Linked DNA regions of Homo sapiens. The protein of the gene in region 1 purifies or fractionates together with the protein of each later gene. This does not show direct contact. Each region holds a gene or a part of one and is shown in the gene's direction. Other genes may lie near its edges.

Region 1 (3,651 bases):
CCAGGCTGGAGGGCAGTGATGTGATATTGGCTCACTGCAACCTCCACCTCCCGGCTCAAAGGATTCTTGTGCCTCAGCCTCCTGAGTAGCTGGGATTACAGTCATAAGCCACCATGCCTGGCTAATTTTTGTATTTTTAGTACAGACGGGGTTTTGCCATATTGGCCAGACTGGTCTCAAACTCCTGTCCTCAAGTGATCTGCCCGCCTTGACCTCCCAAATTGCTAGAATTACAGGCGTGAACCACTGCACCTGGCCTTAAGACCAGGGCTTCTTGATAGTTCCTTGTATATTTGTGCAGCATTCTAGAGATTGGAAAACACTTCCTCTTGTATTATCTGATTTTAAAGGGCTGAGTAGTTAAATATCTAACAGGAGAGCGCTTGCTAAATCAATTATGTTCATCTGTGCAGAGGACTCTTTGCAGCCATGGAAACCAGCATGATCAAACCAGAAATGGATTTCTAGCTTATAACTAAATGCAGGGAGAACAGCGTATGTATCAGTGTGTCTGGTACAGTCCCATTCCTATCAATAATTATATGGAAATAAAAAATAATTGAGTATATATGAGTATATATACCATGCTTTAACAGTGGTTATCTCTGTGTGGGAATATGGGCATTTAAAACATCTAAACACCTGTTTTGTTTTGTTTTTGAGACAGAGTCTCGCTCTGTCGCCCAGGCTGGAGTGCAGTGGTGCAATCTCGGCTCACCACAAGCTCCGCCTCCCGGGTTCACGCCATTCTCCTGCCTCAGCCTCCCGAGTAGCTGGGACTATAGGCGCCCACCACCTCTGCTGGCTAATTTTTTGTATTTTTTAGTAGAGATGGGGTTTCACTGCGTTAGCCAGGATGGTCTCGATCTCCTGACCTCGTGATCCACCCGCCTTGGCCTCCCAAAGTGCTGGGATTACAGGCGTGAACCACCGCGCCCAGCCTAAAACATCTAAACATCTTTTGATTGCATTTTCTGACTTCTTGGAAATGGGCATACATTATTTGGGGTAGGTTGAAAAATAATGAAAAATGGAGTCACCTTTTAAACAAAATAAAAGTGAAGAGATTGAGGCATAGTGCTGTGCGGTGGGTGTTAGTCATTTTAATGTGATGCTACCTACTGTCAGTTGAGCCTCACAGTAGTCTTGGGGAAAACTCATCATTATTGCCATGTGAAGGTGTGGAAACTGAGGCTCAGGCCTTTCAGGCAGCCCAGGGCCCTTGGGTCATGAGAGACAGGGCAGGTAGGTATTTGAGCAGGTGTGTGTGACCCCAGTGACCTGTATACCCCAGGACAGTGTCCTTTCCATGCCCATTTGCCCTACGCCACCCCTTCTCTCACCCCTGCAGGTTGCAAAAGTGTCCACTACGATCTGGTCTTCCTCCTGGACACCTCCTCCAGCGTGGGCAAGGAGGACTTTGAGAAGGTCCGGCAGTGGGTGGCCAACCTGGTGGACACCTTCGAGGTGGGCCCCGACCGCACCCGTGTGGGGGTCGTGCGCTACAGCGACCGGCCCACCACGGCCTTCGAGTTGGGACTCTTTGGCTCGCAGGAGGAGGTCAAGGCGGCTGCCCGGCGTCTCGCCTACCACGGGGGCAACACCAACACGGGAGACGCGCTCCGCTACATCACGGCCCGCAGCTTCTCCCCACACGCCGGCGGCCGCCCCAGGGACCGCGCCTACAAGCAGGTGGCCATCCTGCTCACCGACGGCCGCAGCCAGGACCTGGTGCTGGACGCCGCGGCGGCAGCCCACCGCGCTGGCATCCGCATCTTTGCCGTGGGCGTGGGCGAGGCACTCAAGGAGGAGCTGGAGGAGATCGCCTCAGAGCCCAAGTCCGCCCACGTCTTCCACGTGTCCGACTTCAATGCCATCGACAAGATCCGGGGCAAGCTGCGGCGCCGTCTTTGTGAAAGTGAGTGCGCCCGGGCCCCATGCGGCCCCTCCCAAGAGTGACGCCCCCTGCTGAGCCCACGGGAGGGGTCCTCGGGCAGATAGGGATCCTACGGCCGGCTCCAGGAAGGCGGGGGAAGTAGCAGGTGCAGAGGCTGAGGGGACCCACATTCTTGGGTTTGGCCACACAGGGAACCTAGTAGCATGGGCACCCCCTGGACATTCCTGTTGTCAGAAGGATATCTTCTCCCATCCAGAGGCAGAGGTCGCGGGCAGAGGCAAGAAGGGGTTTGGGATGAAAGAGGGATGGGTTCTAACCACCCTGCCACCTGGGAGATACTTGGTGTCTCATCTTTACCTCTGATGTGGGAACATCCTCTACTTACTGCCCAGAGCTGTGAAAGCTAGAAACTGTGCATGCAAAGTCTGGCCTGAAGCATTGGGTATAGCAGGGTCTCCGAAGGGGCAGTGATGAGGGATCACGCAAGAAGCATTCAGGCTCCCTCGGCTCTTCCCAGCAGCCCAGAGTCAGTCATTTAGACACAGTCAGGAGGTGCTTATCCCAGAGGCCAAGTGCTGTTGACCTGGTGCCCTCTGAGATAACCCAAGGCCTCTAGCTTATTTGTCTGGAATCTGTTGATTGTGGCTGGGGGTGGGGGAGGGGAGGCAGAGGGCTGATGGCCCCCAGGGCTCTGACCTGGAAGCCTGACCTCCAGGATTTAGTGGGGGTCATTCTGAGGACAGCGCCCTCCCCAGGACAGGAAGGATGAAGTGGGTTTCTCATGTTCCAGACTGTCTCCAGCTTCTGCCTCTGCCTATTGCATTGGGGTGACATTTGTCCTTCTCCAGTCACAGTGGGTGCTGAGTAATCTTCTCCTCCAGGCCCGGGAGGGGTTGGGCTTTGAAGCCGGTCAGGCTGAGTGTGGAGCCTCAGCCTCTGTCTTGCTGATTACTGCAGGGGGCTGAACAACCCCTGGCTGGGAAGCCATAGGTTACACCTTGGCCAGGGGCAGGGAAAGCTTTGGGGGCTGGGGCAGCATGGAAGGTGCTCGTGATGAGAGCAGCTGGGTGTGAGTCAGAAGGGGAGGCAGGGGCCTGATCCTGGGGATGTGCCTGGCTTGCAGCCCAGTGAGAAAACAGCTAAACCATTTCTGAAACTGGGGTGGCTCTAGGCTGCTTTACCACAGTATGACCCTTTTCTCTGTGTTGGCTCTTTTAATCTCCACTTATTTATTCAACAGATACTTATCAGGGCTCTACTTTTTTGTATGGCCTTGTGCTGATTTCTGGGGCTACAGAAAAAGACAAGACACAGCAACCATTCTCAGGGTGCTCATAGTCTAGAAGGCAGGAAAGCCACATAAAAGGGAATGTGATACCGGGCAGGTAAACTTTAGCAGCGTCTCATGTGCCAGGTCCATGTGTGGTCGTGGTATGTGTGGGGATACTGAGAATGATGGAGGGCTCCCTGGAGGAGGTGGTGCTTAGGTTGTTTAGAGGATGGGCATGAACTGCATGGGATTGAGAAGGATGCGATGGAGTGGGATTAAAGGATGCCATGACATGGTCAATGAACCATGATGGGCCCGTGCAGCTGGGGAAAGGGAGGAGGTTAGGGCTGCTGGGCATTGCCAGATTGTCAGGGTCCCCATAAAGGGGGGCCTTGTGTGCTAAGGTGAGGACATGCTGGAGGGTTTATGCGGGGGTATGACATGGTCAGATCTCTGTGGGGAATGGAATGCCGCTGAACAGCAG
Region 2 (4,260 bases), on another chromosome or scaffold:
CCTGGGAGGCGGAGGTTGCAGTGAGCCAAGATTGCACCACTGCACTCCAGCCTGGGCAACAGAGTACGACTCCATCTCCACACACACATACACACACACACACACACACACAAATTGTTAATTGTATATGTATAATTATAATAGTTTATATATATTAACAATTATATATAAACTTGCATATATATAGTATTTGCTGTATTATTATATATAAACAATTATATATGTAATGACTGTATAAAATAGATAAACAATTTTAACTAATAATATTATATTAATTATATTATTATTAGATGTAATAATTATAATTATTTATATATAATATTTATTATTATGTATCATTGTTAGAACACTTAACATGAGCTCTGTCCTCTTAACAAATTTCAAGTGAACAAGACGTTATTGCTGACGATGGGTCGTATGTGGTGCAGCAGATCTCTAGGCCTGTTTGTTAATAACTCCCCATTTCCCCCTCCTCCCAGCCCCCGTAACCACCATTCCCTGCTGTGATGTTGTGACTCTGGTGACTTTGCAGATCTCCTGTAAGTGACATCATGCAGTACTTGGTCTCTGCATCTGCGTCGCTTGGCGTGATGTCCTCAGGTTTCGTCTGTGTTGTCGCCCATGGCAGAATTTTCTTCCTTGTTTAAGGCTGAATAGTATTCCCCTGTGTGTGCACCACATTTTCTATATCAATTCTTCTATCAATGGACATTTAGATGATTTTCACGTCTTAGCTATTGCGAATAGTGCTGCAGTGATCAGGGGAGTTCAGACGGCTCTTTGCATACTGAATTTGTTTCTTTTAAATATAGACCCAGAAGTGGCATTGTTGGACCATACGGTAGCTCTATGTTTAGTTTTTTGAGGAACCTCCCCACTGTTCTCTATAGTGAGTGCACAATTTTTCAGCCTCCCAAAGTGCTGGGATCACAGGCGTGAGCCACCGCGCCCGGCGCACTGTAGGATCTTTTTTAATGCATTATATACCTTGCTGAGATTTTAGCAGAGATCACAATATTAAAAACTTGGGGAAGGATTTCTATGACTCTTATTTTAAATACGAGGACATGTCGACTTCTAGTTTTGTAACATCTTGCCCAAGAGCGGTGGTCGTTAACGTGTGGAGTTGGGATGACATCCAAGTCAGTTGGTTGCACGACCTTTATTCTGTCTTGTCCCATAGATTTAGAAAGAGGCTGACACATCGGGTAACTAGTTTAAGGTCATCTGATCATGCGGGTAAGCGACATTTTTCAGAAACCAAGGCCCTCCCTCTCATCTCACTAGTGGGAAGGGTGGAAAGAACAGAACAGAAAGCTCTCCCTCTTGTGTGAGGCAGTTGCTGTGGAAGCCCCACGGGCAGGAGGCCCCCGGCCAGCACATCCTGTCTGCTTGTGTCTGCTGCAGAGTTCTGGGACCGGGGCCATGTCTCCACACCTCACTGCTCTCCTGGGCCTAGGTGAGTCCTGGAGGGAGCGGGAAGGACTGGAAAGGGGGTCGGGAGGTCTGGAAAGTTCCCTGCTCAAGCCTGACTCTAGTCCAGAAGATTCTGGGGAGGAAAGTGTCCTCCTCCCCCCAAGACTGCCCTACTGCTCTCCCTGGGGCCTAAGTCTGATCAGAGACAACCTTGTCCTAAAAACAGGGGCCCGGGTGTGGGGATGAGGTCAGCTTTAAGAAGGGCTGGGGGGCCAGGCGCGGTGCTCACACCTGTAATCCTAGCACTTTGGGAGGCTGAGGCAGGTGGATCACCTGAGGTCAGGAGTTTGAGACCAGCCTGGCCAACGTGGTGAAACTCCATCTCTACTAATACAAAAATTAGCCGGGCATGGTGGCGGGCACCTGTAATCCCAGCTACTCGGGAGGCTGAGGCAGGAGAATTGCTTGAACCCGGGAGGTGGAGGTTGCAGTGAGCTAAGATCGCGCCACTGCACTCTAGCGTGGGCGACAAGAACAAAACTCCGTCTCCAACAACACCAAAAAGAAGGGCTGGGGGAGCAGGAGCCTTTTTGGAAGAGGAGACTTTGGGATTTATCTTGAAACCATTTTGCAGCAAGAAGGATTACATGGAGACAGTGATGTCGAGGAGGGTTGGCTTGGTCGTTATGAAATGCTGAATGCCCCCCAGCTCCGTCAAGCCCCCTTTTGACAGCAGCCCTGTAAGGAGACTGGGCAGTGGGCATTTTTCTCACTGGGGCTTCTCTTCCAGTGCTCTGCCTGGCCCAGACCATCCACACGCAGGAGGGTAAGTCATGCCTTCGTCCCGTCTTCCCAGTCCCCTCTGTCACCCCAAAGGCAGTGCTGGGTGGGAGTGATGTTGATTCTTAGAGGGCCTGGAGAGATCCCTTTAAATATACCCTAGATTGCAAACTATTCCAAATGTAAAATGCATAACCCTCACCCCTTTCTCTCCTTCATTCTCCACCTGTCATGTTTTGCTTTTCTTATTTTCAAAAATCCTATATTTTATTTTATTTTTATTTTTGAGATGGAGTCTCACTCCATCACCCAGGCTAGAATGCAGTGGCATAATCTCGGCTCACTGCAACCTCTGCTCCCAGTTTCAAGCGATTCTCCTGCCTCGGCCTCCTGAGTAGCTGGGATTACAGGCACCCACCACCACCCCTGGCTAATTTTTTTTTTTTTTGTATTTTTAGAAGAGATGGGGTTTCACCATATTGGCCAGGCTGGTCTCGAACTCCTTACCTTATGATCCGCCCGCCTCAGCCTCCCACAGTGCTGGGATTACAGGCATGAGCCACTGTGCCCAGCCAAAAATCTTATTTTTAATCGACAAATAATTGTATATGTTTGTGGGGCACGATGTGATGTTACAACGTATGTAAACATTGTGGAAAGATTAAATAAGGCTAAATAACATATCAATCACATCACATACTTATTGTGATGAGAACATTTAAAACCTACTTTTAGCAATTTTGAAATATATAATAAGTTATTATTAACTATAGTCAGCCTGCTATGCAATAGATCTCAAAAACTTACTCCTCCTGTTTAACCGAAACTTTGTACCATTTGATCAGTGTCTCTCCCAAGCCCCCCATTTCCCGACTTTAATAGCATCATTCTAATCTCTAACTCTGTGAGATGACCTTTTTTGTTTGTTTGTTTGTTTTGGGATGGAGTCTCACTCTGTCACCCAGGCTGGAGTGCAATGGCACAATCTCGGTTCACCGCAAACTCAACTTCTCAAGTTCAAGCGATTCTCCTGCCTCAGCCTCTCGAGTAGCTGGGATTACAGGTGCATGCCACCACGCCCAGCTAATTTTTGTGTTTTTAGTAGAGATGGGGTTTCACCATGTTGGCCAGGCTGGTCTTGAACTCCTGACCTCAGGTGATCCACCCACCTCGGCCACACAAAGTGCTGGGATTACAGGTATGAGCCACTGCACCCGGCCGAGATGAACTTTTTTAGATTCCACATGCGGTATTTGTCTTTCTGTACCCAGCTTATTTCACTTAGCATAATGTCCTCTGGTTCATCCATGCTGTTGTGAATGACAGAATGTCCTTCCTTTTTTAGGGCTGAATAATATTCCATTGCATATATACACCACATTCTCCTCATCCATTCATTTGGTGGTGGTTATATAACTCAGGTTATTTCCAGGTCTTGGCAGCTGTGAGTAGCGCTGCGGTCACCCTGGGAGTGCAGGCATCACCTCCACACACCGATTTCCACAATGAGAATTCAAACCCAACACAACCAAGGCTGAACCCGGCACTTTTCCCCAGACGAGCCCACACTTCACTCGGCAGCTTCTTGGCGGGGAACGTGACAGTCACAAAGGGCAGACTCTGAACACTCATCCTCTTCTCCATCCTCCTGGATGCACCATGTCACCCAGTCCTGGTGATTTCACTCTAAATTTTTCTCATCTTTCCCTCTCTCTTCATCGACTTTTCCTGCATCACCCCCAGGTGACAGCCCTTCTCCCCTCCGTGGCTCCCCGAGGCCGGCCTCAGCCTGTCCATGCCACTGCTGCCTGCTCCCTTCCTGACCCCAGGGACTGGCGATTTGCAAAAGCACAACCATGACCATTGTACTTTCCACAGTTTTTAAATTGCATTCAAAAATTTTCATTTAATATCTCATCGTAAGATGAAGTTTTTTTCTTAGAGCCCTTCCCCTGTTTATCTTCAGATAGAATCAACCCAGGCACCTCTCTTTGTTCTGGACATGCCCATTTTCCCAGCCACATCCTGTCCCTGTGACCTGGGGCTCACTCATCTCTACATTCC
Region 3 (3,651 bases), on another chromosome or scaffold:
TAACTTCTATGTAGCTTTATATTCTAGCCCTAGGATTTCCTCTTCCCTCTAAGAGCAAGAAACATGTGTGCAGGTTGCCATGGGAATAGAGCCAAAGGGCATCAAAGGTCATGGGCATGAAAGGGCATGATTAGATGCCCTTGGGTGCTATTCCCATGGCAACCTGCACACATGTATCTTGTCCCACTGGCAGAATTTCATACAATTATCTGTTTACATGTGTCTTCCTTACCAATTCTTCAGCAAATTGAGGCCTGAGATCATGTCTTGTCTTATTTGTGTCTGATTCCAGGGCACAGTGCAGGGGGTCATCATGAAGGAGTCATTCATTCAGGCTACTAAACTGACCAATAGGATTGTAACATGCTTGCTTTCTTTTCACAGTCTCCAATAAGTGGTTCCATGAACGAGGACAGGAGTTCTTGAGACCTTGTGGATCAACAGAAGTTGACTGACATCCTTTTCTGTCCTTCCCCTTCCTGGTCCTTCAGCCCATGTCAACGTGACAGACACCTTTGTATGTTCCTTTGTATGTTCCTATCAGGCTGATTTTTGGAGAAATGAATGTTTGTCTGGAGCAGAGGGAGACCATACTAGGGCGACTCCTGTGTGACTGAAGTCCCAGCCCTTCCATTCAGCCTGTGCCATCCCTGGCCCCAAGGCTAGGATCAAAGTGGCTGCAGCAGAGTTAGCTGTCTAGCGCCTAGCAAGGTGCCTTTGTACCTCAGGTGTTTTAGGTGTGAGATGTTTCAGTGAACCAAAGTTCTGATACCTTGTTTACATGTTTGTTTTTATGGCATTTCTATCTATTGTGGCTTTACCAAAAAATAAAATGTCCCTACCAGAAGCCTTAAAGAGCCTTACTTGGAGTATTTTTAAGACTGGAAGCTTTTACCAGGTTCATCATTTCCTATGCATCACCTTCATGCAGGCAGAGTCTGGATAATGAATGCTTTAGCAGCAAAAAAGCATCTTGGGTCTTGGATTTCAGACCTGGTTTCAACACTTGTGTTCCCTCTAAGTGTCAGTGTCCTTTTCTGGAAAGTAGGGTAAATAGTTTCTCTTTGTCTCCCAGAGAACATAGCACATGTGTTCATGATTGTAATGCTGTTATAATGTGTACTTCATTTTTAAATTTTGAGATAAGAATTGTTCATGATACACAGATGTATACTTAAAAAAATATGAAGGTGAGCAGGAGCACCTGTGTCAACACCAAGTTAGAAAAGAGAACGTTTTCAAGTCAGTACCTCAGGAGCCCCTTGGGAACCCCTCCTAGATCACATCTCCTTCACTGCCCCCAGCACTTTGGAGATAAATCATTGTCTCATGATGTGTGGTACTCATTCCTTTGCTTGTCTTTATAGTTTTACCATCTATGATTAGATCCCTAAATAAGTAGTTATTCTGTTTTCCCTGATTTTGAACTTTTACTAATAGAATGAGAGTAAATATTTTTGGGTATGTGGCTTCTTTTGTTCAACATTGTTTTAAGATTCATCCGTGTTGCTTGTGTAGCTGTAATTTGTTTTAATCTTTATAGTACATTCAGTTTTGTTAATGCTTATTGTAGGACTGTACCATAATACAGGCAGCATGCTGCTGATAAACACTGGAATTGATTTCAGTCTTTGTATATTGTGAATAATGCTGTGATAAACATTTTTATACATGATTCCTGGTGCACATATAAACACATATTTCTGTAGGATATATATCTAGGAGTGGAAATGTGGAGTCTTAATGGTGTTCCAACTTTACTAAATAATGTATTCCAAGGTGGTTATACACATTCTCACCAGGAGTAAATGAGAGTTATTACCCCAATCTTTTCCAGTATTTAGTATTTTCATACTTTTGAATTTTAGCTAGCTTGGTACATGTTACGGACTAAATGTTTGTGTCCCCCCACCAGATTCATATGTTGAAATCTTTTTTTTTTTTTTTTTTTTTGAGACGGAGTCTCGCTCTGTCGCCCAGGCTGGAGTGCAGTGGCGGGATCTCGGCTCACTGCAAGCTCCGCCTCCCGGGTTCACGCCATTCTCCTGCCTCAGCCTCCCAAGTAGCTGGGACTACAGGCGCCCGCCACTACGCCCGGCTAATTTTTTGTATTTTTAGTAGAGACGGGGTTTCACCGTTTTAGCCGGGATGGTCTCGATCTCCTGACCTCGTGATCCGCCCGCCTCGGCCTCCCAAAGTGCTGGGATTACAGGCGTGAGCCACCGCGCCCGGCCCATATGTTGAAATCTTAACCCCCAATGTGATGATATTAGGATGCGGAGCCCTTGGGAGGTCGTAAGCATGGAGCCCACGTGAGTGGGATTAGTGCCCTTATGAAGAGATCCCAGCCCTCTTTCTGCCATGCGAACACACAGCAAGAAGATGCCTGTCTATGAACCAGGGGGCCCTTACCAGAAACAAACCTACTAGCATCTTGATCTCGGACTTTCCAGTTCCCATAACCATGAGAAATAAATGTTTTTAATTCAATGTATGGTATTTTATTATAGCAGCTCTACCTAAGACAGTACATGTATAGTGTCTATTTGAACATTACTGATAATGTTGAACAACTTTTCATGTTTATTAGTTATTAGGTTTCTTCAAGTGTTCTTATTCATACAAATTTTAAAATATGTACACAAGTTCTTTGTTATATATTTTGCAAATATCTTCTGTGGCTTGTCTTTTCACTATTTTAGTTCTGTCTTTTGATAAACAGGAGCTTTTAATTTTTATGTCAAATCTATCAAGCTTTTTCTTTTTGATTTATGTTTTTTATGTCTTATTTGAGAAATCCTTCTATACCCCAAGATCATGAGGATGTTTCCTGTGTTCTCTTCTGAAAGCTATATAGTCTTTGTCATTTAGGTTTATCTTTATACGTGGTATGAAGTGTAAAGTTCTACTTTTAATTTTTTGCATATTTTATTAGGATAGGATGGGCTTTTTCTGTAGTAATAATCCTTAAATCTCAGGGGCTTAATATATAAAATTGTCTCATGCAAAAAACCACTGGGTCTAGGGCAATTGCTATCTACTGCCGTCTAATCTCCCTCTAGTGGCTTCCATTGGTAGACCCTAACAGGAAGCCAGCTGATAAGGGAATCTGGGAAATGTAGTTTACAGAGTGGCAGCTACAGTAGAACAGTAGAGACTACAAGGATGAGCTTGCAGCTGAGAATAGAAACGTGACTGGCACACTAGGTGGTTTGTTTGTAGGTTTTTTCTTTTCCTGTTTGAGACTTTTTTGGATTCTTGAATTTGTACAATGGTATCCTTAATCAATTGTGGAAAATTAAATGATTTTTTCTTTCAGCATTGTCTGTTTCTTCTGTAACTGATTAAATGTAAGTTGGATCATATCATGATATTATCTCTTAATCTGTCTTTCATATTTTTATATATATGCTATATTTGGGGAGAACTTTATAGCTGTTTTGTACAAAGTTCACTAATTCTGTCTTCTATCAAGTGCATACAGGAGTCTGTTTAAGGACTTTAAAGATGTAATTCTTTGTTTTCTGGCTTATACCATTTCTGTTGAAAAGTCGCTATCTGGTCCTTTGTTGTTCCTTTGAAGGTGATTTTGCCTTCACCTGGCTGCTTTAAAGATTTTTTTCTTTTTGGTTTTCAGTAGTTTTACTATGG

Evidence for each region.
Region 2: the proteins of COL22A1 (region 1) and LAIR2 purify together in Homo sapiens (co-immunoprecipitation; one large-scale study listed by IntAct). This does not show direct contact.
Region 3: the proteins of COL22A1 (region 1) and P4HA2 purify together in Homo sapiens (co-immunoprecipitation; one large-scale study listed by IntAct). This does not show direct contact.

Annotation. Positions count from the first base shown.
Region 1 is NC_000008.11:138,876,017-138,879,667, reverse strand, and holds part of COL22A1 (collagen alpha-1(XXII) chain precursor), read left to right. Parts: intron 1-1,351; coding exon 1,352-1,918; intron 1,919-3,651. UniProt on the Homo sapiens protein: Acts as a cell adhesion ligand for skin epithelial cells and fibroblasts.
Region 2 is NC_000019.10:54,501,494-54,505,753, forward strand, and holds the start of LAIR2 (leukocyte-associated immunoglobulin-like receptor 2 isoform a precursor), read left to right. Parts: upstream 1-1,337; 5' UTR 1,338-1,425; coding exon 1,426-1,459; intron 1,460-2,206; coding exon 2,207-2,242; intron 2,243-4,260.
Region 3 is NC_000005.10:132,189,814-132,193,464, reverse strand, and holds the end of P4HA2 (prolyl 4-hydroxylase subunit alpha-2 isoform 2 precursor), read left to right. Parts: intron 1-384; coding exon 385-455; 3' UTR 456-3,318; downstream 3,319-3,651. UniProt on the Homo sapiens protein: Catalyzes the post-translational formation of 4-hydroxyproline in -Xaa-Pro-Gly- sequences in collagens and other proteins.